Linked DNA regions of Homo sapiens. The protein of the gene in region 1 purifies or fractionates together with the protein of each later gene. This does not show direct contact. Each region holds a gene or a part of one and is shown in the gene's direction. Other genes may lie near its edges.

Evidence for each region.
Region 2: the proteins of CNKSR3 (region 1) and NISCH purify together in Homo sapiens (co-immunoprecipitation; 3 studies listed by BioGRID and IntAct, with this or other methods). This does not show direct contact.
Region 3: the proteins of CNKSR3 (region 1) and VCPIP1 purify together in Homo sapiens (co-immunoprecipitation; 3 studies listed by BioGRID and IntAct, with this or other methods). This does not show direct contact.
Region 4: the proteins of CNKSR3 (region 1) and ARHGAP39 purify together in Homo sapiens (affinity purification with mass spectrometry; 3 studies listed by BioGRID and IntAct, with this or other methods). This does not show direct contact.

Annotation. Positions count from the first base shown.
Region 1 is NC_000006.12:154,500,683-154,507,707, reverse strand, and holds part of CNKSR3 (connector enhancer of kinase suppressor of ras 3), read left to right. Parts: intron 1-7,025. UniProt on the Homo sapiens protein: Involved in transepithelial sodium transport. Regulates aldosterone-induced and epithelial sodium channel (ENaC)-mediated sodium transport through regulation of ENaC cell surface expression.
Region 2 is NC_000003.12:52,486,591-52,493,580, forward strand, and holds the end of NISCH (nischarin), read left to right. Parts: intron 1-605; coding exon 606-2,015; intron 2,016-2,745; coding exon 2,746-3,088; intron 3,089-3,484; coding exon 3,485-3,641; intron 3,642-4,114; coding exon 4,115-4,243; intron 4,244-4,761; coding exon 4,762-4,923; intron 4,924-5,281; coding exon 5,282-5,892; 3' UTR 5,893-6,478; downstream 6,479-6,990. UniProt on the Homo sapiens protein: Acts either as the functional imidazoline-1 receptor (I1R) candidate or as a membrane-associated mediator of the I1R signaling.
Region 3 is NC_000008.11:66,629,227-66,636,251, reverse strand, and holds part of VCPIP1 (deubiquitinating protein VCPIP1), read left to right. Parts: intron 1-879; coding exon 880-1,751; 3' UTR 1,752-7,025. UniProt on the Homo sapiens protein: Deubiquitinating enzyme involved in DNA repair and reassembly of the Golgi apparatus and the endoplasmic reticulum following mitosis. Necessary for VCP-mediated reassembly of Golgi stacks after mitosis.
Region 4 is NC_000008.11:144,675,838-144,682,862, reverse strand, and holds part of ARHGAP39 (rho GTPase-activating protein 39), read left to right. Parts: intron 1-7,025.

The DNA of each region.
Region 1 (7,025 bases):
ACAAAATGCCTGTGCCCTTTTGGACCCTGAAATACAGCTTAGTAGAAAGACCTGGATACGTTCTGTGTTCGAATCTAAAAAAGATGGCTAAGATGATAAGAGGCTGCAATCTTCCAAGTTGCGTGACCCATTACTTGAATATTTCTCATAATAATGATGCTCAAGTATTGACTTTTTAATGAACTATCGACTTACAAAAGCTCGTCTGCTTATAGGACTATTTTTAGTGCTCTTTGCTAATCTCTTTACCCAACCTTTATTTTATAAATACATGCTACTGATAAGCAGCTCTTCATGTAGACTTTGCTACTCTTGGTATTGCATGAATCTGGGTAGGGCGATTATGAGAACCATAGAAGGCCTTAGATTTAAAACTGTCTAAACCTGGCCACAGTCGACAGCTGGATCTCACCTCCTTGTTATTTGACAGATGTGTGCCTTAGGAAAGAAGTTCTTGTCTACAGAATGAATTAACCTGTCTGGCTTTTATTATTAATGTTTAGCTACACTGTCACCAATTTTACCGTAATGTTAGTGGATCCTCAGTAATTATTAAGCAGTGTGTCAGGCACATGTCTAAGCATTGTACAAATATCAGCTCATTTAATAGGCACCACCACCTTTGAGGTAGGAACAGTTATTTCCATTTTGCAGTTGAGGAAACCGAGTCACACACAGATTGACCGATGTCACCCAGCAGAGCAGGTGGTTTGGCTTCACTCCACTCCATTTTCTCAGGAGTTTCTTCCCAAGGCCACATCTAGACCACACCGACAATCTTTACATTTATGAATAGAACTTCAGGATTCGGTCTGAATAGCATATGGTAGCGGAGGAGTCTCATCCAGTATATGTCTGTGTTATTCTCTATCTTTAGTTCATGTCAGAAAGTTATTTGTAAGTCAAATTAATTCCTAGTTCATGGCGCCTTGCCAGTCAGTTCAGTAAAGGCCTTTGCAAAGCAAATGATCTTTTACAACGTGTAGGGTTAGCCGCACATAACAGAAAACCCAGTGGGTTAACCAAATTGGGGTTCCATGGCGCTGCCATCTTGTTCAGCCATTCGTAGCACATGGCGTAGGGTATGGCCTGGCACATGGTGTTCATTTTCATACTTAATGCTTCAGTGCAAGGTGGCGGCTCCTGCATGATTGTCTTCCTATTCCAGGCAGAAGGGAGTCTCATGGAAGACAGAAGACAGGTAGCAGCCAAGTCTTCCCCTTTAAAGAGTTCTTTGAAAAACTGTCAAGTGACCTGGTTTACATCTCAGGTGCCAGAAATGTCACATGGCCACCTCATGCAGCAGGGAAGGCTGGTTGCTGTAATTTCTTTCTTTTTCCTTCTTTTGTTTCTTTTCTTCTTTCTCTTTCCTCCCTCCCTCACTACCTCCTTCCTCCCCTTTCCTCTCTTTTCCTTTCTTTTCCTTTTCATTTCTTCTTCCTTTTTTGCTTTTTCCCTTCCTTTCTTTTTTTTTAAGTTTGGTACATTGTGGCCCTGAAAAAAACTTGGAGTTTGGTCAGAAAGGAAAAAGGGGAGAATAGATATTGGTAGGCAGGCAACAGGGATTTACATGCACTGATTTTCATAGCTCAGTTCTCAGAGTACACATGTGCCACATTCCCTACTTATATCCAGCCCTGTTTTAGAAAAAGCATTATATCTTCATTCCTGTCCAACCTTCTTAGGTCAAAATCTGAACTTATATGAGGTCCTTTTCTCTAAGCTTGATTTAAATATGAGAAATTTCATTGTCAAATGCAGCTACCACAAGTCGTTTTTCTGCTTTAAAAAGGCCACTGGGGAGTGCCTTCGACGAGGAAGACGTGGGACTGGTTGTCCCAGCAGAACTGTCCTAGCCTTGGCTGTTGATCAGCCTCGAGTGGGTAGGCTCTCAACAATTGTGTAGTTGGCCAGGCGCGGTGGCTCACGCCTGTAATCCCAGCACTTTGGGAGGCCGAGGTGGGCGGATCACAAGGTCAGGAGATCGAGACCATCCTGACCAACATGGTGAAACCCCATCTCTACTAAAAAATACAAAAAAAATTAGCCGGGTGTGGTGGTGGGCGCCTGTAGTCCCAGCTACTCGGGAGGCTGAGGCAGGAGAATGGCATGAACCCGGGAGGCGGAGGCTGCAGTGAGCCGAGATCGTGCCACTGCACTCCAGCCTAGGCGACAGAGTGAGACTCTGTCTCAAAAAAAAAAAAAAAAAAATAATAATAATAATAAAATTGTGTAGTTGAGTCAGCACATCTCTAAAACCCACCTTTGGTCCCAGGACAGAAGTCTCTCTGGCCAGCTTCTGGTGCTGCTAGTGTTGGTAGCAGTCCCCATCACCAACCAAGAGAAAAGGGGGCTTTCTTGCTCAAGGTCTAAGCCACGGGACTTGCTCTTTCCCTGTCGTGTCTATTTGTTTATGACACATAGCAGTCTTAAGGTGCTTGACTATTTGGCCATGGAAAGTCTGGAATTTCCAAGTTAACTACAGAGATCTGATACATCACAGGTCAACTGCAATGTACTACCTTGCACTGTTAGGCCCTTCCTGCCACCGTCCAGACAGAGGCAGTTCTTTCTGTTACCTTGATTCCAGTTTAGGTTATACCTTCTCTTTTAGTCTCTGTGGTCCCTGGGAAAGGGAGGCCTTTTTGTTTTAGCAGCCGTAGGTCTACCATTTGGCCATAGTTCAGAAAAGCTCTTCATTCCACCCTCTCCTTGGTTCCATTCACTCTCCTGCACTCCAGTGATAAAATTCTCTTAATAACAGAAAAACATTGATTGATGCACTTATTATCTTGGCAGACGCTGTTCTAAGTGTTTATTTAGGCTCTCTCATTATAAAACTTCTTTACTTATTATTTTTTAATACAGAGATGGGGTCTCACTCTGTTGCCCAGGCTGATCTTGTCCTGAGCTCAAGTGATCCTCCCACCTCGGCCTCCCAGAGTGCTGGGATTACAAATGTGAGACATTGCACCTGTCCAGCCTCTTTGATTTCATCCTTAGAAAACCCAGTGAGGTGTTTGAATAATTTCCAGCCCATATTAAAGAAACTGAAGCAGAGAGAGAATTTGCTCAGGGTCCCCTAATTAGTAGTTGTGGTCTCCTTGGGGCTCTCCTGTACTCCATCACTTTGTCACTTTGATTACTTGTACCAGGGGGTGGAGCTGAATGGTTCAGAGCATGGGCTCTGGAGCCGGACTCAGTTTGTATCCCAGTTCTGCTTTTGACTGTGTGATCTTATGTAAGCTCTCCATACATTTCTACTCCTTGTTTTTATTGCTTTCTCTCTTCCTTTTTCCTATAGCTCCAGGACACAAACTGTTTTCTCTGAGCAGTGAAGTCTTTCATAAGGTGTATTCTTATCATCCAGGGGCACCTGTCAGTGTCAAAGAGATTTCTCTGCCGTTTACCAGCTGGTCAGAGGATCCGGGGCAGAACTTGCAGCTGATCAGGAAGGTTCTTGATTAGCGGAGTGATAAATGCCTCTTGCAAATTTCGTGAGCTTTCCTTGGGTAAATTAGTTTGAGCCATATTTCCTCACTTTTAAAAAATAGTACCTGGGCTTGCAGTGAGCATGGCATAGGATGGTTTTTGCTGTCAACTGTTGGCCCCTGTCTGGTACCTGGTCTGTGACCAGCAACTTCAGCATCACCTGGGAGCTTGTTAGAGATGCAGAAGCTTGGGCCTGCCGAATCAGAATCTGCATTTTAATAAGATCCCCTGGCGATTCGTGCACCCATCACAATTAGAGAAGCACTGTTCTAGCACGTAGCTGCAAATGTGTTTTCAAACTTTGCTAGAGTCCTGCTATTGTAGTATTGGGCTATCTGGTCTGGTATGTACTCCAGCTGTTTTATTTACATTCTGGAATGATGACACTTAATTTGAGAAGGCTTGTCTTTGCCACTAATTAAAGTAAAAAACCAGTCTTACGGTGTGTGCTTATATTTATAAGCACCACCTAGCAACAGCATCAGGCAATTCTTAGCAAAATAAGTGAGACATTTCCCTTGAGATTTCTTCCTTATTCCTTGAAGAGTTCTTATAACAGCCTTTTTTTTTTTTTTAAATAAGAGGCAGGGTCTTGCTCTCTTGCCCAGGTTAGAAAGCAGTGGTACGATCATAGCTCATTTTAGCCTCAAACTCCAGGGCTTGAGGCTTGAGTGATCATCCTGTGTCATCCTCCCAAGTAGCTGGGACCACAGGCACATGCCACTACACCTGGCTAATTAAAAAAAAAATCTTTGTAGAGATGGGTCTTGTGGTATTGCCCAGGCTGGTCTGGAACTCCTGGTCTGCAGTGATCCTCCCGGCTCGGTCTCCCAAAGTGTTGGAATTACAGATGGGAGCCACCATGCTCAGGACCAACCCCTGCCCCCCTTTAAAAAAAAATCTTTAACACAAGTAGTAAGAAGGGAGTTGTGGGGTGGTCAGTGGTCACTGTGGTTGAAGTTTGTTCTCAGGATCCTCAGTAGGACCTAGGAGGATGAGATGGGCTTTTGGCTAGTCACACTATCCTATAGTTGGTGACCACACGGGGTTTACCACACTTAACTGACTTTTGGTGGAGATTTTATTGTTGATGGGAAATGACACCAAATGTCATTTCAGGAATAAATAACCATGGCAGTTCTAAAAACTTGGCACAAATATATGAGTTGCGCTGAGACTGGGGTAGCTCCATCCTTTATCCATGGAGATTGGCAAGTGACAACTCCTGCTCCGGCTCCTTCGTGCATTCCCCTTATTGTGAGGAAGCGAGAGGGGCCCTCCCGTCTGTGTCCCCATGCCTGTGTCACTGCCTCTCTTTTCACCCAGCGTGTTGTCTTCTAGCTCCCGGACCTGAGCGTTCTTGCCTTGCTTTCTCTCTTTCCTCTCATTTATGCTATTTCTGGCGTGTCATCACTGGCTTACCCATTATGTAAGCTTTAAGTGAAAAAATCAGATGTTATTTTCATGAGCTCTGAGGGCACTTCTGCATTTGTTCTCATTTGACTCTTCTGAAGCCTGGAGATGCACAGGAAGGCAGTTTCCACTGCAGATGAGCAGCATGGAGGAGGCTTTTGGAAGTGAAATGAATTGTCCAAGGTCCAGAGGTGAGGAGCTGGGACCAGGCCTCACAGGCTTCTGTTCTGTGGTCCTGTCCCGTCCCTGGTTTCTGCTCTATCCAGGTGGTGCCTTCTAGTTCCTTCCTAACCAACAAGTGTGGGAGGCTGGGTGTGGTGGCTCACGCCTGTAATCCCAGCACTTTGGGAGGCCGAGGTGGGTGGATCACCTGAGGTCAGGAGTTTGAGACCAGCCTGGCCAACATGGTGAAACCCCGTCTCTACTAAAAAAAAAAAAAAAAAATTAGCTGGGCATGGTGGTGGGCACCTGTAATCCCAGCTACTCAGGAGACTGAGGCAGGAGAATCTCTTGAACCCGGGAGGCAGAGGTTGCAGTGAGCTGAGATCGTGCCACTGCACTCCAACCTGGGCGACAAGAGCAAAACTCCATCTCAAAAAAAAAAAAAGAAGAAATATAGGGAAAGCCCTTTGCATAACGTATGGCATATGTGTGGAATTAAAAGAGGAAATACAGGGAAAGCCCCTTGCATAACGTATGGCGTATGTGTTTACCCACTTATTATTCATGATCAATAATAACTCAAGTTAACTGGTGGTGTAATTGGGATATTTTTATTTAAATGTTTAATATTGTTGTGGCTGATTGTCACCCTTCATGTGCTTATTAATAATTTATGACAATTCCATTCACCCTTTTGTTGTTATACAGGAGGTAAGTTAAATCAAGTCCGTCTTCGGTCTTCTCATTGTTTCCTTGGACGCTTTCCCCCTGTTCTTAGGGGAATCTTCTCGGTTTTAGGTATTGTTCTAAGTGCTGGGAATCCATAGTCCCGGCTTTAGTGTGGTAGATGTGTGGGTGACAAACGCCACCACCAACCACAAAACAGATGATAAGAAAATTTCTACTGATAAGCATAAATCAGAAAATAAAGCAGAGAGGTGAAGGAGAGGGACTGGGTGGGGGACTCCTTTGGATGACGTCATCAGAAAGCCTTTCAGAGGTGACATTTAGGCATGAATGGTAGGAAGGAACCAGCCATCAGAAAATTAGGGAGAAGGGCATTCTAGGAGAGGGAATAACTCATGCAAAGGCCCTGAGGTGCGAACCGGCTTGGAGAGTTTGAGAAAAGGAAGTTGTGGTGGGGTCATGAGAGCGAGGGTGGGGGTGATGGGTGAAGAGCAGGTGAGAGAGACACACAGAGGCCAGATCATGTAGGTTCTTACAAGTCGTGGTCAGGGAGGTGCAATTTTTTATTTTTATTTTTTAATAGTTACGGTGGAAAGCAGAGAGTGACAGTATTTGATCTGTGTGTTGAAAGATCAGTCAGGGTTTTTGAGCAGAAATGAATTCAGGAAATCCAGCTGGAAGGCATTGCAGTATTCTGGAGGCGATGGTGTCTTGGATTCAGGTGTTGGCAGTTTCAGCCTTTGTGAAGCCAAGTTCTAGTTACAGTTGGGTCATTGACAGCTTCCAATCTCAGTAATGTAAACATTATATTTGAAGTTGGGATGTCTGCTCATTCTTTCCCCTCCTGCCAGGGCTAAGGTAGATGCTCTCCTCTGCCCCTGGCTCCTCTCTGGCCAAGTATGATGGTCATTTAGAATAGAGAGCGCCCTCTGTCTTTCTGCCTTGTTCACATCATTGTTATTTTCTGGCACTTTTTGCTGCGGCTAGTTTCTGAAGCTGTTTATTCATCTATGAATAGAGTTTTTGTGAAATTGGACTTAGCCTACTTTGTTTTCTTTGACATCAAATGGCTGATTGAACATTTTTAAACCTGGGATCAGAAGGGCAAATATGGTTGTTTATTAAAGCAAAGCAGTTCCTTAGAATGCGAATCAATAAGATGTAGAAATTAGAAAGCTTTCTATGTGAAAACTTTTAAAGTATTTGAGTAAAGAAACTGGTGTATCTGACTTAAAATATTTTGCCCTACTGAAAGACTATCCTAATGTTTG
Region 2 (6,990 bases), on another chromosome or scaffold:
GTAGGGACAGGATTTCGCCATGTTGGACAGTTACATTCTTAAAGGGCTGCTGAAGATCGTATGGACATGGTAGCCCATAAATCCCAAAATGTGTACTCTGACCCTTTACAGAAGCTTACTAACTCCCACTCTACATGTGAGGGCTGCGGTGGCCAAGAAGAGCTGGAATTTAAGTGTGAAGGTCCTAAGACCTGCCCCAGCCCACTTCCCTGCCCCGGAGGCCACCAGGGGTGACAAGTAGATTCATGCCCTGGAGTGTTCCTTCTCTCCGGGGCTTATGGCAGCAACTGAATGACTTAGAAGTCCATGGGAGTGCTTCTGTTGTGGGAACTCGTGTGGTCTGGGCATAGCTGTGCCAGGCACCTATGGTCCAAGCCCCTAGAAGCATAGACTCTGACCAAACTGGCGACCCAGCCTTCCAGCAGGCAGCACTGGCTCCCACCAGGGCCCTCATCCTGGGAACTGACTTGGCCATGTGGGAGGCTTGGGAGACCCATGGGTTGGTTTCTCAGGGTCAGGGTGTAGCAGTGGGCTCCAGATGTGGCAGGTGGGAGGTGGGAGGGGCCCCTCCCAGCATGCCACTGACCTGGCCTCTCCCTGCACAGCCCAGAACATGCCGAGCCGGAGGTCCAGGTGGTGCCGGGGTCTGGCCAGATCATCTTCCTGCCCTTCACCTGCATTGGCTACACGGCCACCAATCAGGACTTCATCCAGCGCCTGAGCACACTGATCCGGCAGGCCATCGAGCGGCAGCTGCCTGCCTGGATCGAGGCTGCCAACCAGCGGGAGGAGGGCCAGGGTGAACAGGGCGAGGAGGAGGATGAGGAGGAGGAAGAAGAGGAGGACGTGGCTGAGAACCGCTACTTTGAAATGGGGCCCCCAGACGTGGAGGAGGAGGAGGGAGGAGGCCAGGGGGAGGAAGAGGAGGAGGAAGAGGAGGATGAAGAGGCCGAGGAGGAGCGCCTGGCTCTGGAATGGGCCCTGGGCGCGGACGAGGACTTCCTGCTGGAGCACATCCGCATCCTCAAGGTGCTGTGGTGCTTCCTGATCCATGTGCAGGGCAGTATCCGCCAGTTCGCCGCCTGCCTTGTGCTCACCGACTTCGGCATCGCAGTCTTCGAGATCCCGCACCAGGAGTCTCGGGGCAGCAGCCAGCACATCCTCTCCTCCCTGCGCTTTGTCTTTTGCTTCCCGCATGGCGACCTCACCGAGTTTGGCTTCCTCATGCCGGAGCTGTGTCTGGTGCTCAAGGTACGGCACAGTGAGAACACGCTCTTCATTATCTCGGACGCCGCCAACCTGCACGAGTTCCACGCGGACCTGCGCTCATGCTTTGCACCCCAGCACATGGCCATGCTGTGTAGCCCCATCCTCTACGGCAGCCACACCAGCCTGCAGGAGTTCCTGCGCCAGCTGCTCACCTTCTACAAGGTGGCTGGCGGCTGCCAGGAGCGCAGCCAGGGCTGCTTCCCCGTCTACCTGGTCTACAGTGACAAGCGCATGGTGCAGACGGCCGCCGGGGACTACTCAGGCAACATCGAGTGGGCCAGCTGCACACTCTGTTCAGCCGTGCGGCGCTCCTGCTGCGCGCCCTCTGAGGCCGTCAAGTCCGCCGCCATCCCCTACTGGCTGTTGCTCACGCCCCAGCACCTCAACGTCATCAAGGCCGACTTCAACCCCATGCCCAACCGTGGCACCCACAACTGTCGCAACCGCAACAGCTTCAAGCTCAGCCGTGTGCCGCTCTCCACCGTGCTGCTGGACCCCACACGCAGCTGTACCCAGCCTCGGGGCGCCTTTGCTGATGGCCACGTGCTAGAGCTGCTCGTGGGGTACCGCTTTGTCACTGCCATCTTCGTGCTGCCCCACGAGAAGTTCCACTTCCTGCGCGTCTACAACCAGCTGCGGGCCTCGCTGCAGGACCTGAAGACTGTGGTCATCGCCAAGACCCCCGGGACGGGAGGCAGCCCCCAGGGCTCCTTTGCGGATGGCCAGCCTGCCGAGCGCAGGGCCAGGTGAGATCAAGCACAGCTCTCAGGGGCCCCGGGGGCATGGGTCTGGCATGTGTGTGATCTCAGCATCTGCGGCTAGTGTGGGCTGGGAGTTGCTGCGAGAGCTGGGCCCCCTCCCCCCCTGCCCCTCGCCCCCCCCGGGCCTCCCTCTACATCACCACCCCAGGTTTGGTGCCAGGCTGCTCCTTATCTCAGTGCTGTAGAAGAAGCCCAGGAAAGCTGTCCTCTCACAAAATGGGTTGGCCCAGCCTCTTGCCACCCATGAAGGGCAGGCCAAGGGGGCTGCCCCACCTTTGCCTGCCCAGTGGGAGAGCAACAGGCTGCAGCACACCGAGGCCAGGAGAGCTGTCACCCTGGCTGCTGTGCTCCTCTGGGCCCAAGCATGGCCTCTGGGCACTACCTCCTCCAGGGTCACAGTCCCACGGATGGCTCTGTGGGCCAGGATCTGCCTTAGGCTTCACCCACCTCAACATCTTGCTGTGTTGTTCAGGCTGGTCTCAAACTTTGGGCTCAAACAATCCTCCGCCTCAGCCTCCCAAAGTGCTGGGATTACAGACATGAGCCACCGTGCCCGGCCGTGCTGTTCTGTTCTCCAATAGAGAAGCTGGTGGAAGTCCCCAGTAACCCAGAGGTGATGTGTGATGCACACAGTCTCCTCACTCTGAAGCTGCACATGCGATGTGAATCTTCATTTGGGGTCCGCTGTTAATATGGTGTTTTTCGGGGGATACAGCAATGACCAGCGTCCCCAGGAGGTCCCAGCAGAGGCTCTGGCCCCGGCCCCAGCGGAAGTCCCAGCTCCAGCCCCTGCAGCAGCCTCAGCCTCAGGCCCAGCGAAGACTCCGGCCCCAGCAGAGGCCTCAACTTCAGCTTTGGTCCCAGAGGAGACGCCAGTGGAAGCTCCAGCCCCACCCCCAGCCGAGGCCCCTGCCCAGTACCCGAGTGAGCACCTCATCCAGGCCACCTCGGAGGAGAATCAGATCCCCTCGCACTTGCCTGCCTGCCCGTCGCTCCGGCACGTCGCCAGCCTGCGGGGCAGCGCCATCATCGAGCTCTTCCACAGCAGCATTGCTGAGGTAGCGGCCCGGGTGTGGGTGCCAGCTATGGCACGGCCAGTCCTGAGGGCGAGGCCAAGCTTGGCTTCAGGTCAGCCTCAGGTCCCTGGACTTCCCTGATGTCGGAGTCCTCAGCTGAGCTGCTCACAGCTTTGAGGACCTGGGCAGTGAGGTCCTGAGTTGCCCTCCCCTGGCCATTTGTGCTGTGTCACCACCTCCTGTGCCACTTCCAGCCCCAGGTAGACCTCCCACCAACAGCCATCTCCCACCCCTCTCTTCCTCTCTGCCTTGAAGCATACGGATTCATTGGTGAGCCAAGAGGGGCTTCCCATGTCTCCTTGTGGAAGCTGTGGGCATGTCCCTGGTATGTGCAGGTTGCTAGGGTGGTGGAGCTGACAGGAGGCCCCCCGTCTTCAGGTTGAAAACGAGGAGCTGAGGCACCTCATGTGGTCCTCGGTGGTGTTCTACCAGACCCCAGGGCTGGAGGTGACTGCCTGCGTGCTGCTCTCCACCAAGGCTGTGTACTTTGTGCTCCACGACGGCCTCCGCCGCTACTTCTCAGAGCCACTGCAGGGTAGGCACAGGGCCTGCTGGGGCTCAGGAGCTTGGAGTGTGTGGTTGGGGCAGGCCTGGGGGGTCATTCTCTGGAGCCAGCTGTGTGGCTTCAGGCAGCAGTCAGCGACTTGGCTGCAGTGGGCTGAGAGTTCCTTGTCTGAGGAAGGGAGCTGTCATGAGGGAGGGGTCCATGGCCAGATGTGAACGCAGAATGCACTGAGCCAGGGCCTGGTGACTGCTTGGGAACAGCCAGTGATGAGAAGGGGTTAGGCAGCCTTTGCCCCTGGGGCTGCACAGGAAGCCCTAGCCAGCGACCTGGTGACTCCCCTGAGCTGGAAGAGGCTCCGACTCCAGAGGGCATTGCCTATGGGGCTTTGCACGGGTGGAAGCCAGGCCAGCCAAGAGGACCTGTTCCTGCTGGATGTGCTGCACACCTAGGAACCTTGTGCTTGCCTGCCACCGCCTCCCTCTGTCCCTTTCTCCATCACACAGATTTCTGGCATCAGAAAAACACCGACTACAACAACAGCCCTTTCCACATCTCCCAGTGCTTCGTGCTAAAGCTTAGTGACCTGCAGTCAGTCAATGTGGGGCTTTTCGACCAGCATTTCCGGCTGACGGGTGGGTGACCCTCTGTGCTTTGTCCTATTTCGGGTGAAGGCCAGCATCACCAGTGGGCTTCCACCTTCCGTACGTGGGTGGGTTATCATAGACAGTTATCTCTGTGCTCAAGAGCCACTTCTTAACCGGGGTGGGAGGAAGCAGCTTCAGGAACTGCTGAGAGAGCAGAACTCACGCTCCAGGGCTCAGAGCAGGAGGTAGGGTGTGCGGCAAGCGCTGGCCCGGACAGAAGCAGAGTGGGCCCTGGTCTCGGGCAGGATGTTTCTGACTCACATTTCCTGAGGAGAGAAAGCTAAGCTCTTTGCCTAATGTCTCTGTCTCCCCTTCCAGAAAAATGCCTCAGCTCTTCCGGCCTGAAGGAATGGCCTCCTCCCGGGCCCCATGATTCTTTCCTGTGTGGGCCCTCCTGGCCCTGGCCTCTGGGCTGAGGCTTGCTAGGGACTCGGGGTGGCTCTAAGGGGCAGGGATAGGGCTGGGGAGCGCCGGCCTGTGGCCCTGACCAGCCCCTTCTCGTGCAGGTTCCACCCCGATGCAGGTGGTCACGTGCTTGACGCGGGACAGCTACCTGACGCACTGCTTCCTCCAGCACCTCATGGTCGTGCTGTCCTCTCTGGAACGCACGCCCTCGCCGGAGCCTGTTGACAAGGACTTCTACTCCGAGTTTGGGAACAAGACCACAGGTACCCCTGTCTAGCTCAGGCTGCAGACAGGCTGCCTGGACAGACGTCATGGGCCCCAGGGTGGCTCTCTGTGCCCCAGAACCCTCTCTGCCTCTATGTCTCTCTTTTCTCACTTAGCTGGCCAGGGTTTTATGTGGGGCTTTTCGATGGCAGAGTCTCCACTCCAGCAGTCCCTCAACCATCTGGCAGACACATCTCCAGTGCCTGCTTTGGGCTCCTGGCCTGTGGGCCCCACACTTGGAGCATCCTCTCCTGCCTGTCTCATGCCGGGGTCTCTCGGTTGGCTTGGGGCCCTTGGTGCTCCCAGCCCCACCAGGGGCCGGTTCCAGGCTATAGCCCAGGTGGCATCTCTCTGCAGGGAAGATGGAGAACTACGAGCTGATCCACTCTAGTCGCGTCAAGTTTACCTACCCCAGTGAGGAGGAGATTGGGGACCTGACGTTCACTGTGGCCCAAAAGATGGCTGAGCCAGAGAAGGCCCCAGCCCTCAGCATCCTGCTGTACGTGCAGGCCTTCCAGGTGGGCATGCCACCCCCTGGGTGCTGCAGGGGCCCCCTGCGCCCCAAGACACTCCTGCTCACCAGCTCCGAGATCTTCCTCCTGGATGAGGACTGTGTCCACTACCCACTGCCCGAGTTTGCCAAAGAGCCGCCGCAGAGAGACAGGTACCGGCTGGACGATGGCCGCCGCGTCCGGGACCTGGACCGAGTGCTCATGGGCTACCAGACCTACCCGCAGGCCCTCACCCTCGTCTTCGATGACGTGCAAGGTCATGACCTCATGGGCAGTGTCACCCTGGACCACTTTGGGGAGGTGCCAGGTGGCCCGGCTAGAGCCAGCCAGGGCCGTGAAGTCCAGTGGCAGGTGTTTGTCCCCAGTGCTGAGAGCAGAGAGAAGCTCATCTCGCTGTTGGCTCGCCAGTGGGAGGCCCTGTGTGGCCGTGAGCTGCCTGTCGAGCTCACCGGCTAGCCCAGGCCACAGCCAGCCTGTCGTGTCCAGCCTGACGCCTACTGGGGCAGGGCAGCAGGCTTTTGTGTTCTCTAAAAATGTTTTATCCTCCCTTTGGTACCTTAATTTGACTGTCCTCGCAGAGAATGTGAACATGTGTGTGTGTTGTGTTAATTCTTTCTCATGTTGGGAGTGAGAATGCCGGGCCCCTCAGGGCTGTCGGTGTGCTGTCAGCCTCCCACAGGTGGTACAGCCGTGCACACCAGTGTCGTGTCTGCTGTTGTGGGACCGTTGTTAACACGTGACACTGTGGGTCTGACTTTCTCTTCTACACGTCCTTTCCTGAAGTGTCGAGTCCAGTCCTTTGTTGCTGTTGCTGTTGCTGTTGCTGTTGCTGTTGCTGTTGGCATCTTGCTGCTAATCCTGAGGCTGGTAGCAGAATGCACATTGGAAGCTCCCACCCCATATTGTTCTTCAAAGTGGAGGTCTCCCCTGATCCAGACAAGTGGGAGAGCCCGTGGGGGCAGGGGACCTGGAGCTGCCAGCACCAAGCGTGATTCCTGCTGCCTGTATTCTCTATTCCAATAAAGCAGAGTTTGACACCGTCTGCATCTTCTAAACCAAGGGTCACTGGGATCCCAGCAGGGCTTCCGTCCAGGGCGTGGTCACATGGGGGAGGGAGGGTGCCCTGGAGACAGGAGGGTGAGGGGTTGGGGGAAAGGAAGGAGCAGCCCTCCAGGAGCCAGATGCTTCTTGGAACATGGGAGGCATGACAGGGCCATGGCCTCTCTGGACAGTGCCATGCTGGGCTGTGGCTAAACCATGAGCGCAGGGCAAACAAGAAACTCCTCAGGGCACCCCTGACACACCAGCCGCTGCCCCTCTGCCTGGGTGCGGGGCATGCCACCCTCTTCAGGCTGTCCTGCAGGTCTTATGTGTCAGTCACCCCTGGGCCCAACCCCACCTGTTTCACAACCCCTGTTGAGAGTGGGGGAGGGGCGAGGAGGACAGAGAGATCCCAGAGTCTGAGGTGGCTGGTGGGGGCCGGGGCATCTCACCAAGGTGGCCCTTGAATGGCAGCAGGGGAGGTCTGTGGGGAGGTGGACCCAGGTGGTGGAC
Region 3 (7,025 bases), on another chromosome or scaffold:
TTTTTTTTTTTTTTTGAGATGGAGTCTTGCTTTGTCACCCAGGTTGGAGTATAGTGGTATAGCGGCGCCATCTTGGCTCACTGCAACCTCCGCCTCCTGGGTTCAAGCAATTCTCCTGCCTCAGCCTCCCCAGTAGCTGGGACTACAGGCTCACACACCACCATGCCCAGCTAATTTTTGTATTTTTAGTAGAGACTGGGTTTCAACATTTTGGCCAGGCTGGTCTTGAACTCCTGACCTCAAGTGATCCACCTGTCTGCCTCCCAAAGTGCTGGGATTATATGCATGAGCCACTGCACCTGGCCTCAAGCTCCATTCTTTTTTTTTTTTTTTTTTTTGAGATAGAGTTTCACTCTTATTGTCCAGGCTGGAGTGCAGTGCCGCAATCTCAGCTCACTGCAACCTCTGCCTCCCAGGTTCAAGTGAGTCTCCTGCCTCAGCCTCCCAAGTAGCTGGGATTACAGGCGCCTGCTGCCATGCCCAGCTAATTTTGTGTATTCTCAGTAGAGTTGGGGTTTCACCACGTTGGCCAGGCTGGTCTCGAGCTCCTGACCTCAGGTGATCCACCTGCCTTAGCCTCCCAAAGTGCTGGGTTTACATGTGTGAGCCACTGTGTGACCTCAAGCCCCATTCTTAACTTTGCTGTTAGTTAAGATAGCAAAAAAATTTTTTTAAAAAAGATTCTCTGGGGAGAACTACTTTAGGGTCTATGGCGGTGGTTCTTTTTTGTAATACAATAAATCTGAATGAATTTTGTTTTGAAAGCTGTTATCTGTAAATTGTTATTTAAAATTCATTATTTTAACTATAATTGTCTTGACTACACTTTTATTAATACCTTAAGATTTTAATATGTTAAATATCTTTTCCCCTTTTTAGGTATGGCTGATGGCAAGCATTGTACTTTTCCACATCTGCCTGGCAAAACCTTTGTCTATAATGCTTCTGAAGATAGACTGGAATTGTGTGTGGATGCTGCAGGACATTTCCCCATTGGTCCTGATGTTGAAGATTTAGTTAAAGAGGCTGTAAGTCAGGTTCGAGCAGAGGCTACTACAAGAAGTAGGGAATCAAGTCCCTCACATGGGCTATTAAAACTAGGTAGTGGTGGAGTAGTGAAAAAGAAATCTGAGCAACTTCATAACGTAACTGCCTTTCAGGGAAAAGGGCATTCTTTAGGAACTGCATCTGGTAACCCACACCTTGATCCAAGAGCTAGGGAAACTTCAGTTGTAAGAAAGCATAATACAGGGACAGACTTTAGTAATAGTTCCACTAAAACAGAGCCTTCTGTATTCACAGCTTCTTCTAGTAATAGTGAGCTTATTCGAATAGCTCCTGGAGTAGTAACAATGAGAGACGGCAGGCAGCTTGATCCTGATTTGGTTGAGGCCCAGCGAAAAAAATTGCAGGAAATGGTTTCTTCTATTCAGGCTTCAATGGACAGGCACCTTCGGGATCAAAGTACAGAGCAGTCACCATCTGATCTTCCTCAAAGGAAAACAGAAGTTGTGAGTTCTTCTGCAAAGTCTGGGAGTCTTCAGACTGGTTTGCCTGAATCTTTTCCTTTAACTGGTGGTACTGAAAATTTGAATACAGAAACAACTGATGGCTGTGTAGCAGATGCACTGGGAGCAGCCTTTGCCACAAGGTCAAAAGCACAAAGGGGAAATTCCGTGGAGGAGCTTGAAGAGATGGATAGTCAAGATGCTGAGATGACTAACACAACTGAGCCAATGGATCACTCTTGATTTAATTAGAGGCTAATAAAGGCAGAATGTTTATTGTGAATATGTAATATTTGTTGGCTGGGCCACGTAACTTGATTAGTCATTAAAAATCTTGTACGTATATAATTCAAAGATTATATCTTGTTATTCAGTGCATGATAGCAAGTGTGTGATTGGCCATAGCTTTTAATATACTGCTGCCCAGGCTGGCTCTGAATTTCTATAAATTAGCTGTTAGATCTGCTGAGATGACTTTCTTCCATATATGTGGTTCATTGGAAGTTCTTTGTAATTTTAATTCCATGAAAGTCTTAATGTTTCCAACATGAAAATTCTCTTACTTAAATACGTTTGATTTCTGAAAAGCCTACAAATGGAGGGGAAATGAGATTGTGCTAATGTTGATGTCATCAAGGTAACCATCTCATATACTAGTGTCAAAAGGTTTATGTAAACTTGAATTTTATCTGAACTAAATTGTATCTTAAAATTCATACAATTATTTATTAGACAGTGGAATGCAAATGTTTCTATGAACGTAAACACATTCATAGAGATTTCTTGGCGAAAATATCTTGAGAATAGAATGTAACGATATAACATTTTGCTGATTTGTGCAAGATTGGGGAAAAATTTCTTCTAGATTGATGAGGTCAATGTGATTCAGTTGTGTTGCTGTCTGAGCCACAGCCAATTGTGTGTGCTCTATTAATATGTTACCATTATTTTTGATTCCTGGCTTGGTCAAGAACAACCTGATTTTTTTTTTTTTAATCTTGCAGAAAAGTTGATTGCAAAGTGTGGTAGAAAAAGAAATAATGGTAGCAGTAGAGAATTTATAAATAAGAGTTTATCTTTATGAATGAGTTAATTGTTCTACAATTTTGATCAGTGGTATTTAAGCCTGTATATGCTAAGTGTATTTATGCCCCTTTGAGCCAAAATTTTTTTTTTTTTTTCAGAATCCATAAGAGTTTATTTGTTGGCTTCACTTGGGTTTAGATGCAAATTTTACTGCATCACACCCTGATCAGCTGGGTATTTGCTTAGTGTATTCATCAAATCTTCAGTGCCAGTTTCCTTGAGAAGCAGCTTTCATGCTTATTCCTTAAAAACAACAGAAGAGTGTTTATCCTGAGATTGGTATTGCACTATTTTATTTTATTCTGCAAATCTGTATCCTGAAGTGTACATTTCAACCCATATTCTTCTCTGTTCACTGAAATTAAGTTGAATTTGAATGGCTGAAAGACAAAATATATGTTAATACAATCTCTTACCTAGAGCATTCAAAGCCTGGCTGTCTCTGTTTGCACATGTAACAGATGCAGAACTGTGTTTGTAATTCTAAGAAAATGTATGTCAGAAAGTATTTTATCAGATGTTTAAAAATCTCTGCCTGTTGATTCATAAGGGATATAGACAGTACTTTAACTTGTGTTTCCAGATAAGGCAGATTTTGGTCATCTTTCTGTGAAAGTATCTCTAACTGAATCCACTTCTTAAACAAACTACTCTATTTTAAATAAGGAAAGAATGGAGAATCTAGACATTTTACAGGTGTATCTGAGCAAAATATATATTTGGGTTAGTTTTTATCACATTATCACGTTTGTCTTTATATTTTATCTTCATCCTAAATTTTCTCCCTATCAAAACAGCAGGAAATTTTTAAACTTTTATATTGTACACTATTTTTGCATAAAATAAGAGCTGTAGCTACCAAATACTATTTACTACTTAGTAAAGGTGGCTTCTGTGTATTAAACTACGAATTACAAATATCACTTCACTAACCACTATAATTATTTTTGGCTTTTTCAGCCACTGGAACTTTTTTTGGGGGGATTTAAATACAGGAAAACTGTTTAAGCAAAAAATGCACTGCTTTCATGTAAAATGATATAATCTTCTTTAACAAATATTTTCTTCATTGATAACTGACAGATATCTCATAGCATTAACATAAAATACCAGAAACAAACTTTATCTCCCTATTCTTACATTTAGTGCAAATTGGAATGCGTATGTGAATGTTAGAAGATGGACTTAATCTCTGACAACTTTATTAATTTCTCTAGCTACAGCAATGCTATTTAAAAGCCAGTTAGGTATGAATAGTACAGTAATAGTTTGGGTTCTCCCTTGATAAATGAATAAAAGGCTCAATTCTGATAAGTGATCAAATTTCTTGAAATTCTTTCAAATCAGCTGAAAATTTGGTTGGGGTGAATTGATGGTTTTTGAGAAGTAGGCCAGGTATCCTCACAAAGAAGTTTTAGAATAGGGTTTCTTTTAAGTTTTTAAATATCATCCTTTGTCTTTCCATATGGTTTTCATAACCAAATACATGACTATAGCATGGTTATTTTTCTAGTACTGCCATTTGTGATATAGCCACATCTTGGCGTGCAAGCTAGACATCTCAGGTAAATTTGTTTTTTTTTTTTTTTTTAGCCCTAGAGGTAACATTATAACTAAAATGCATTCCTGCAATTCTGTTTGCAGTGCTTCACTAAACATTGAAATAAAGTTGTAAATTTTTTCTTCAGTAATCCATTTTATAGTTAATCATACCAAATTTAAGTTGATGACCTAAAGTCCAGGTAGTGTTGAAGATAGTATGTATCTAGAATACTGGTAATGAGAAATTGTTGTAAATTGAAGAAAACAAGATGCTGCCATATATTAAGATAGAATATAATTAACTCCATGAGAATGGTTACTCAGGAACTAGTTAAAGAGCAAACCCATTTCTCCCGCTTCACTCTGTTTCAGATATTTTTATTGGAAAATGTTAGGGTAGAGGCCTGAGAAAGTTAGCAAATGCTATTGACTGATACTGGCTCTGTGTCTTCCAGTGATTTTTAGTTTGGTTTTTACAGTCAAGCCTACTGCTTGCAATTAAGATATCAATCTGAAATGCATCTGTAATTCCTGGCCACAGGTCCTTATTGCCATTATTTTTAAGTATCTTCATTGGAGATGAACACTGACTTTTGCATATGGTCTCTTACCTCAGGGAAGATCACTTGCTAGCAACTCATACTACTAATGACAGGTTTTTGAGAATTGTACTGACATCACATGTTAGCTACTAAATGCAAAATGTATAAAAGTATTGTTTTATGTAGTTACCTACCAATACTATCTGCTACTGAATAACTCTCTAAATATGTAGACCTCACTAATAACTAACCTTTAGGTAAAAAATTTACTTCTGTCATTAATTACACTTCAACTGGTCAATATAGTGGCAGCATAAAGTGTTTATTTCAGAATATCAATACAGTTTTGTCTTCATTTTTCAACAGTAATTTCAATTGGTTCATACTTAAAATACTACACAGATTTTGAGTTTTATGGTTCTCAAAGCAAGGTTTCCATCTTAAGATTTTTATAAACACAAAGCCTTTGCAAAATTGGATTAAATTCCACCTATCTTAATGTGAATTAAAAACCACCATTTATAATAATAATAGCGCCATATTCTAAGTTGAGTAAATGCATCCTACCATTCAAGGTTATCATATAATTTAACAAAATTGTACAACCTTAAGGCTCTTCACAGTATAAATTAATTTTTCAAACCAGAGCTGTTCACATGAAAATATTCCTTAGTAGAATGTATATTTAAGAAATAAAACAACAAAGGGGAACTATATCACCCATGTAAGTTATAGAGTTAATTACAAGTTCTACCATTCTTGATAATTCTTTGAGATGCTAAGTGTTTCAGTTCATATTTAATGATACTTAAATCGTGGGAATTTTAATGTTTGTTCCAAAATAGCAGAAATTGTAAAAATTATGAATTATTGGAGAAAATGCCATTACTTGTATATCTGACATTTAATTTTTTAATTATGGAGACTACATGCTTTTGTAGTATAATATTAATGATTATTCTCTTGTAAAAGAAAAGGAAAAATTAGTAAAGAAAAAAGTTTTAGTTGATGTTACCTGCTTGTGAGTATCAATTACTTAGTTTTTAAATTTTTAAGGTATTGCCTACTTTTCTTTAGAATGCAGAAATCTCGTCCTGAGCCCTTATTATGCCTGTGGTAGAGCAATGCAAGACTGAAAAGGTTGCCAGTATTTTCAGGCTTATTTGACTAAGAATTAGTGCCAAGAACTGGAAAGTCTACTTTTTGGAGGGAAATGATACTTAGAATTTGTAAACATAAGCAGTAATAGTGTAAATATTTAGAAAAATAGCAAGTGCTTTAACTGCTCAATAAAATAGTATAGATGTTATTTCACCCTTAAGGCACTGGCTGTTGCCCATTATTTTCCGATTTCGTGATTACTGTATATATTACATTTGAGTAATGAATAATTGGTAATAGTGTATTATAGTGTTCTACAGCACACCTTACTGTACAGTATTTGAAGTTTTCTTTTATATCAATAATAAAACTATAAGTTAATACTGATTTTCCCCTGAAATTCTCCACATTAGCTTTTAAAGGTAATTTTATGTTCTTTAGTTTCCTGGAATTATAATGCATGAACATATAGTTCAGTTTTATAAAGAAATTCTTAAATAATAAAGTTTTCTTGTTGAACTTAAGCGGGTTATCGTACAGGAATAGTGATTTTTCCCCTTAATGTAGATTTCATTGCTAGATGAAATGGACCCAGTGAAAAAAGAGTGCGCAATTTAAAAAAAAACCAAAACGGTCTCACTCTGCTGCCCATGCTGGATTGCCGTGGCATGATCAGGGCTCACTGCAGCCTCAACCTCCTGGGCTCAAGTGATCCTCCCACCTCAGCCTCCTGAATAGCTGGGACTACAGGCATGTGCCACCACACCTGGCTAATTTTTGTATTTTTTGTAGAGATAGGGTTTTGCCATGTTGCCCAGGCCGGTCTTGAACCCCTGAGCTCAAGTGATCTGCCCTCCTCTGCCTCTTTAAGTGCTGGGATTACAGGCGTGAGCCACCGCACCCTGCCAGCAAAATTTCTTTAGACATATTACATAATTGGGCCATAATGCTTACTGAATATTTAAAAATGAAGGCAAATTCTAACAGAGAACTTGATTTTGTGGTGGTTTAAAAAAATACTGGTTAGTGATAAGGAAATGAAAGGAAATACAGATAATAGTACTAAATAACGTTTGTGTAGCTTAGCAGTCAACACGTTTACTTCCAAGTTTTATTGTATATGCTTAATATACATTTTATTAGATCATTTAACTCAATAATTTAGAGTATAGCCTTAGACACCAGACTGCCTAGGTCTGACTCCTGGTACGCTGCTTTCTGTGACCTCTCTGTGCATTCCTCTCTG
Region 4 (7,025 bases), on another chromosome or scaffold:
TTGTTCGGTTTTGTTTGTAGAGATGTGTTTTGCCATGTCACCCAGATTGGTCTCAAACTCCTGAGCTCAAGTGATCCACTTGCCTTGGCTTCCCAAAGTATTGGGATTACAGGCATGAGTCACTGTGCCCAGCCTGCCATTGTTGTTATACTTCTCAGTATTATCCTTGCAACAGAAACGGTGATTTATTAAAATAAACGTTAAGTGACAGGGAGGACATAACAGAAAGTGAGAAGGTGGAATCACCAGCAGTGTAACATTCTGCCTGCTAAGCTGTTGTGAGAAGTAAGAATTTTTTTTTTTTTTTTTTTTTTGAGACAGAGTCTTGCTCTGTTGCCCAGGCTGGAGTGCAGTGGCGTGATCTCGGCTCACTGCAAGCTCCGCCTCCTGGGTTCACACCATTCTCCTGCCTCAGCCTCCCGAGTAGCTGGGACTACAGGCACCTGCCACCACGCCTGGCTAATTTTTTGTATTTTTAGTAGAAACAGGGTTTCACCATGTTAGCCAAGATGGTCTCGATCTCCTGACCTCGTGATCCACCCGCCTCAGCCTCCCAAAGTGCTGGGATTACAGGAGTGAGCCACCGCGCCCGGCCTTTTTTTTTTTTTTTTTTTTTTTGAGATAGAGTCTTGCTCTGTCACCCAGGCTGCAGTGCAGTGGCGAGATCTCGGCTTGCTGTAAGCTCCGCCTCCCAAGTTCACGCCATTCTCCTGCCTCAGCCTCCCGCCACCACGCCCGGCTAATTTTTTTGTATTTTTAGTAGAGACGGGGTTTCACCGTGTTAGCCAGGATGGTCTCGATCTCCTGACCTCGTGATCTGCCCGCCTCGGCCTCCCAAAGTGCTTGGATTACAGGCGTGTGCCACCGCACCCGGCCGAGAAGTAAGATTTAACTTGTTTCAGAACATAGTGGAAAGATTCCCCATATTTCTCAAGGAGATGGTCCTCCTCAAGTCTGGTCACCTCTTCCCTCTGTATCTTAGCTTTACCTTAGAAAATCGCATCTCATCACCTTCATATTGTGTGACACAAAGATTAGGGAAAACCCTTCCACCTTTAGTAGAGTGTTTTGAGATTTGTGACCTTTAAAGTGAGAATATTTAATGTTTAGATAGTGGTAACACAAATAGCCTAAGATAGATTTTTAAATGCCCATCCCAGTTTTGTCTCCTACCTCTCTGCTGGGATGGGCTGTGGAAGCTACATGCTACATGGAGAGTTGGCATGTCCTTGAACAATTTATCAATAGTAGTTCAGAGAATGCAGCCTCCTGGTAGGCTTGTACTGGCTTCTTTGGTGCTGTTGAAAAAAAGTCCATGAAATACGCTCTTATATTGAAACACCTACTTCTACTAGCAAAGCCCCTCTGCTGTGCCTCTTCGTTGACTCAAGGTCCTGCGTCATAGACCTTATGCGATCCGTCTCACAGTTAGCTTTGCAGGTGTCCTGTAAAGACACCACAAGGCATGGCTCAAAAGAGTAGACTCTGGTGTTCAGCCTGTGGAGCAGACTCCCTCGCAGAGCTGGACAGACTCCCTCGCAGAGCTGGACTACCCTGCCTGGCCTGTCTCCTGTCCCTTCTCGTTACCTTTCTTGCTTCAACAAGTGAAATCCTTACCCTCTGACACTGGCTGTCTCTGCTGCCACTGTGCTTGCCTCGTTGTGTCTTTCATCTGCCACTTAGACTTGTTCCCAAGTTTATCTGACAAGTCTTTGCTGTGCCCTGAGGTTGAGTCTGACCCTGACTTCCATACCCTGGCCACACTGTTTCCACCTGCTGTGATCCTCCTCCTCAGCTGGTCTGCACGCCAACTCCTCTGCCACTTCTGCTGTGTTTGGTATCAAGACACCTGAGACCAGGATTTTGCAGGGGTAGTCTTCCCTAAAACTCGTGTTGGTCACTGGTGCCTGCCATCCTGCTAACCCCCTGAAATGTGATGGTGACAAAGTAATTTTATTATCATATATCTGAGTTTTGTTAACATGAAATAGCACCCCCCTCCATTGATAATCTTGTTATGAAACTCGTACCAGTCTTTGACATAGTTCGTGTATTGTGAAAAGAGATTAGTGGCCGCTATTATGATCCATTGGGTGGAATTTTTCTTGGTGCAACATTTAGTGTGGCTTTCCCCTCCTTTTCTTTTGAGTTTTTGGATTTCTGTGGGAAAACCATAATATTTAGCATTAATAATTTTTTTTTCAATTTTGTATGCAAGTGTTTTCCAAGTATTGTTTTGTAGTTTTAAAATCGAACATCTAATTTATGCTCAGTTGTACGTACATTGTAGTGCCACAGACATGCTTTCGGGGAACTTAAAAAGAAAAAATCTGCTACGGATATGAGTCCTTCTGTGATTAAAGGCCTAACCCGTACTCCAGACCAGGGGTCAGTACACTGCAGCCCCCTGGCAGACTCCTCTGCGTGTTTTTGTAAATGAGGTTTTATTCAACAGCTGCGCCTGCTTATTTCTGTGTTTTCTGTATTGTCCATGGCCGCTCTGGCTGAACTGACTCCTTGTGCAGAGGCTGTGCGGCCCGCAAAGCCTAAACCCTTTGTTATCTGGGCCATTTACAGAAAAGTTTGCTTTAGAAGTTTAAAGGGGAGATAATTGCAGGGGGCTGCAGCAGTGAAGGGAGGCTTCAAGACGAGGTGGTCTTCTAGCTGAACCGTACTCAGTGGGATATGAAGAGGGAAGAGTAGGGACATAGCACTGCAGACAGAAGTATTTTCACATTTTGGGAGCAAAGGTGAGAAGGTTGGTTATGTGTGGTTTCTAGCGGTTTAAAGGTTGTGTAAGGAATAATGGGAGATAAGGGTCATAATGAGAAGGTCTTTGAATTCCAGTTAAAGGCTTTAGATTTTAATTTTCTTTTTGTTTTTGAGATGGAGTCTTGCTCTGTCGTCCAGGCTGGAGTGCGGCGGCGCGATCTCGACTCACTGCAAGCTCCGCATCCTGGGTTCACGCCATTCTCCTGCCTCAGCCTCCCAAGTAACTGGGACTACAGGTGCCTACCACCATGCCCGGCTAATTTTTTGTGTTTTTAGTAGACACGGGGTTTCACTGTGTTAGCCAGGATGGTCTCGATCTCCTGACCTCGTGATCCGCCCGCCTTGGCCTCCCAAAGTGCTGGGATTACAGGCGTGAGACACTGCGCCCGGCCTAGATTTTAATTTTCTAGCTAACCGGGAGCCACCGCAGGCAGCTTTGTGAGCAGGGGATGTCCTGATTAATGGTTTAGGGAGATTTAATTGGCAATGTTCTGTAGGATGGGTTGGTGAAGGAAGAAATCCAAATCCAGGAGTTTACTGGACAGCTTTCTCCAGAGCGAGTTGCAGTAGCAACCCCAGCACTGCAGCGCTCACAGCAGCAGAGGCTGATTCCTGCCCGCGTTTCGTTTGCTTGTGACTCTTTTCCAAGAGTCTTCATTTCCAGATCCAGGACCAGGCCTTATGTGGCACATGCTGTTTTTATGGCAAGAGAGTGGCAGAAACCTAGTGTCTTTTCCGGCACCATCCTGGACTGGCATCTCAGGGTCCACGGACCAAAGCAGGGTGTGACGTACAGCCTCCTATGGGGAAGGTGAGCCCCTGCTCGGACGCTGTGCTGAGCAGAGCTGAGGAGCCCGTACCTGCTGTCTGGGCCATCTCACCATGACTGAAGGTGCAGCTGGATGTCTCCCCTCAGCCGCAGATGCTGGACGCTGGAGCCGGCCACCATGCGCGAGAGCCCCTGAGGCGGCTCAGACTCAGCACCCACATTCACTTCTGGCCTCAACCCTTTGGGGCTTTGGGACCTTCACCTGCTTGGTCACCACCTAGAATTTTGGCGTGCTGGGTCCCCCTCTCAGCTGCCATGTGGTACGGCTCCAGGTCCTCTTGCCAGTTCCCCCTGAACAGTGATCAGAACCCCTGCCTGAGTGGGACCTGCACCATGTCCCTCCTGCACTACGCTGTACCTCCTGGGGCTCTCCTGCCCCAGCCTTGAGCCACTCCCCTGTCTCTGCCACATAGCTGCTCAGATGATATAAACAGGGCAGTGATCTCCCCAGGGGTGATTCTGACACCACTCCCCGCCCTCCTGCCACATTTGGCAATATTTGGAGACATTTTTGGTTGTCCCAACTAGGAGGGGATGGCCAAGGATTTGTGGAGGCTGGGGATGCTGTTGAAATCCTACAGTGCACAGGATGGCGCCAGGCTCAGAGCGTCTAGGCGAGTGACTCTGCTGCCTGGCTCTCCTCCCTGGCTCCCCAGTGCCTCCTGGACCATGCTCCACAGCGCTGCGTGACCCCAACCTACTCTGCTCTCCAGAAAAACTGCCATGTGGTCATGGGCCAAGTCTTTCTTGGCGTCCCTCCTTCCAAAACTAAGCCAAGCTCACTGGTTCCTTCAGCCCTTTGACTCAGACTCAGGTAATGTCTGTGGGAGCGCCTCCTGGATCGCTGCCTTGTCCTCAGGTGCTCCACCCCCTCTCGTAGTGCTCTAGGTGGTGCTTTTGGTCACTGCACAATCACATAATATTTTCTCCCCTCTAGACTGGGAAGTCCTTGAGGGCAGCAGATACATTTGTATTTTCTTTTTTTTTTTTTAGAGAGAGAGTCAGGGTGGGTTGTCCAGGCTGGAGTGCAGTGGTATGATCACAGCTCAGTGCAGCCTCCATCTCCTGGGCTCAAGTGATCCTCCCACCTCGGCCTCCGAAAGTGCCAGGATTGTAGACATGAGCCATGGCACTTGGCTGTTTGTGTTCTGAATGTCTTGCTGCAGATTGCAACATTTTCTTTGAGCACTGGCTTCAGTAAAGATGATTGGGTTTAGGATGGGGAGTTGCCCTCAGAGAATGGCTGGCGCAGCAGGGGGAGGGACTCGTTGACACATTTCCCACGTCGGCTGCTTCCATCTTCCTGGGCCTCTCTTGTAACTTGCTTTCCTAAGTGTAAATGTCTTGATTCTCACAGATTCTCTATTTTTGCTTCCTAGAAAGTTTCAATTTTGTTTAACATTTTTGAGCAGATAATATACGTGGTTCAAAAGTACAAAGGGAGCTCAGTGAAGCCTCCTAGTCTCTACCCTGGAACCTGGTTCCCCTGGAAGCTTTGCTGGACCAGCTTCTTGTGTATCCTTCTAGAGATACTTTGTAACTTTGCAAGCAAACAAGTGTATGTATTCTGTTTTTTTCCTTACCCTTTTCTTTTTAAAAAGTTTCTGAACCTTGCCTTTTTCAACTATGTTTGAGAGATCTTTCCATATCAGTACATTTTCCGGTACATTCTTTCCATGGCCGCACTGTATTTGGCTGTATGGAGGTGCTGTGGAATTTTCATGCTGTTACCAGCAAGGCTATAGGCACAGTGTTTTGCAAATGTACCTGTAGGACCCATCCTAGAAATAGCATCTCTTTCTTCAATCACCGTTTATTCCGTCACATCAGGGTTTGCTCTTGTCTCTTAGTGTCTTTATTTCTGCACTTCCTTTGGTCATTTATTTCTCCTAATTATCTCATCTCTCTATATTTTAAATAATATAGTAGGTCAAATTAAATGAATGTCTCAGTTGGAAACTGGTTCACCTTTTGTGTGTTCTTTTGGTTGAGTGACTGGAAATATACACGTCCACGCAGAAGCTTGTCCATGAGTGTTCACAACAGCCAGAAAGTGGAGACAACCTAAATGTCCATCAGCGGATGAACGGATAAACACAATGTGGTCCATTCCTGCAATGGAATATTATTTGGCAATAAAAGGAAGTGAGTTACTGATTCATGTTATAACGTGTGTGAACCTTAAAAATATGCAGGCCAGGCACGGTGGCTCAGGCCTCTAATCCCAGCACTTTGGGAGGCCCAGGCGGGCGGATCATGAGGTCAAGAGATCAAGACCATCCTGACCAACATGGTGAAACCCTGTCTATACTAAAAGTACAAAAATTAGCTGGGCGTGGAGGTGAGAGGTGACAACGTGCTGGCAGCCCTCGCTTGCTCTCGGCGCCTCCTCGGCGTCCGCTCTGGCCACGCTGGAGGAGCCCTTCAGCCAGCTGCTGCGCTGTGGGGGCCTCTCTCTGGGGCTGGCCGAGGCCAGAGCCGGCTCCCTCTGCTCGCAGAGAGGTGTGGAGGGAGAGGCGTGGGCGGGAGCCGGTGCTGTGGCTGGCGCCTGCTGGGCTTGATCTGGGACGAGCTTCCTCTGGGCTGCCGGAGTGCCCGGGCTAGGTGCCGTGAAGTCCCACCATTGAGAGGTGAAGCCGGCTGGGCTTCTGGGTCGGGTGGGGACTTGGAGAACTTTTCTGTCTAGCTAAAGGTTTGTAAACACACCAATCAGCAGTCTGTGTCTAGCTAAAGGTTTGTAAACGCACCAATCAGCACTGTGTGTCTAGCTCAAGGTTTGTAAACGCACCAGTCAGCAGCACGTGTGTCTAGCTCAAGGTTTGTAAACGCACCAGTCAGCAGCACCCGTGTCTAGCTCAAGGTTTGTAAACGCACCAATCAGTGCTCTGTGTCTAGCTAATCTAGTGGGGACTTGGAGAACTTTTGTGTCTAGCTAAAGTATTGTAAATGCACCAATCAGCACTCTGTGTTTAGCTGAAGGTTTGTAAACATACTAATCAGCACCCTGTCAAAACGGACCAATCAGCTCTGTGTAAAATGGACCAATCGGTGGGAGGTGGGTGGAGCCAGATAAGGGAATAAAAGCAGGCCACCCAAGCCAGCAGCGGCAACACGCTGGGGTCCCCTTCCATGCTGTGGAAGCTTTGTTCTTTTGCTCTTCGCACTAAATCTTGCTGGTGCTCACTCTTTGGGTCCGCGCCGCCTTTATGAGCTGTGACACTCACCGAGAAGGTCTGCAGCTTCACTCCTGAAGCCAGCGAGACCATGAACCCACTGGGAGGGAAGAACAACTCCTGACGGGAGGAAGGAACAACTCTGGACATGCTATCTTCATGAACCGTAACACTCACCGCGAAGGTCTGCAGCTTCACTCCTGAAGCCAGGAAGACCACGAACCCACCGGAGGGAACGAACAACTCCAGAT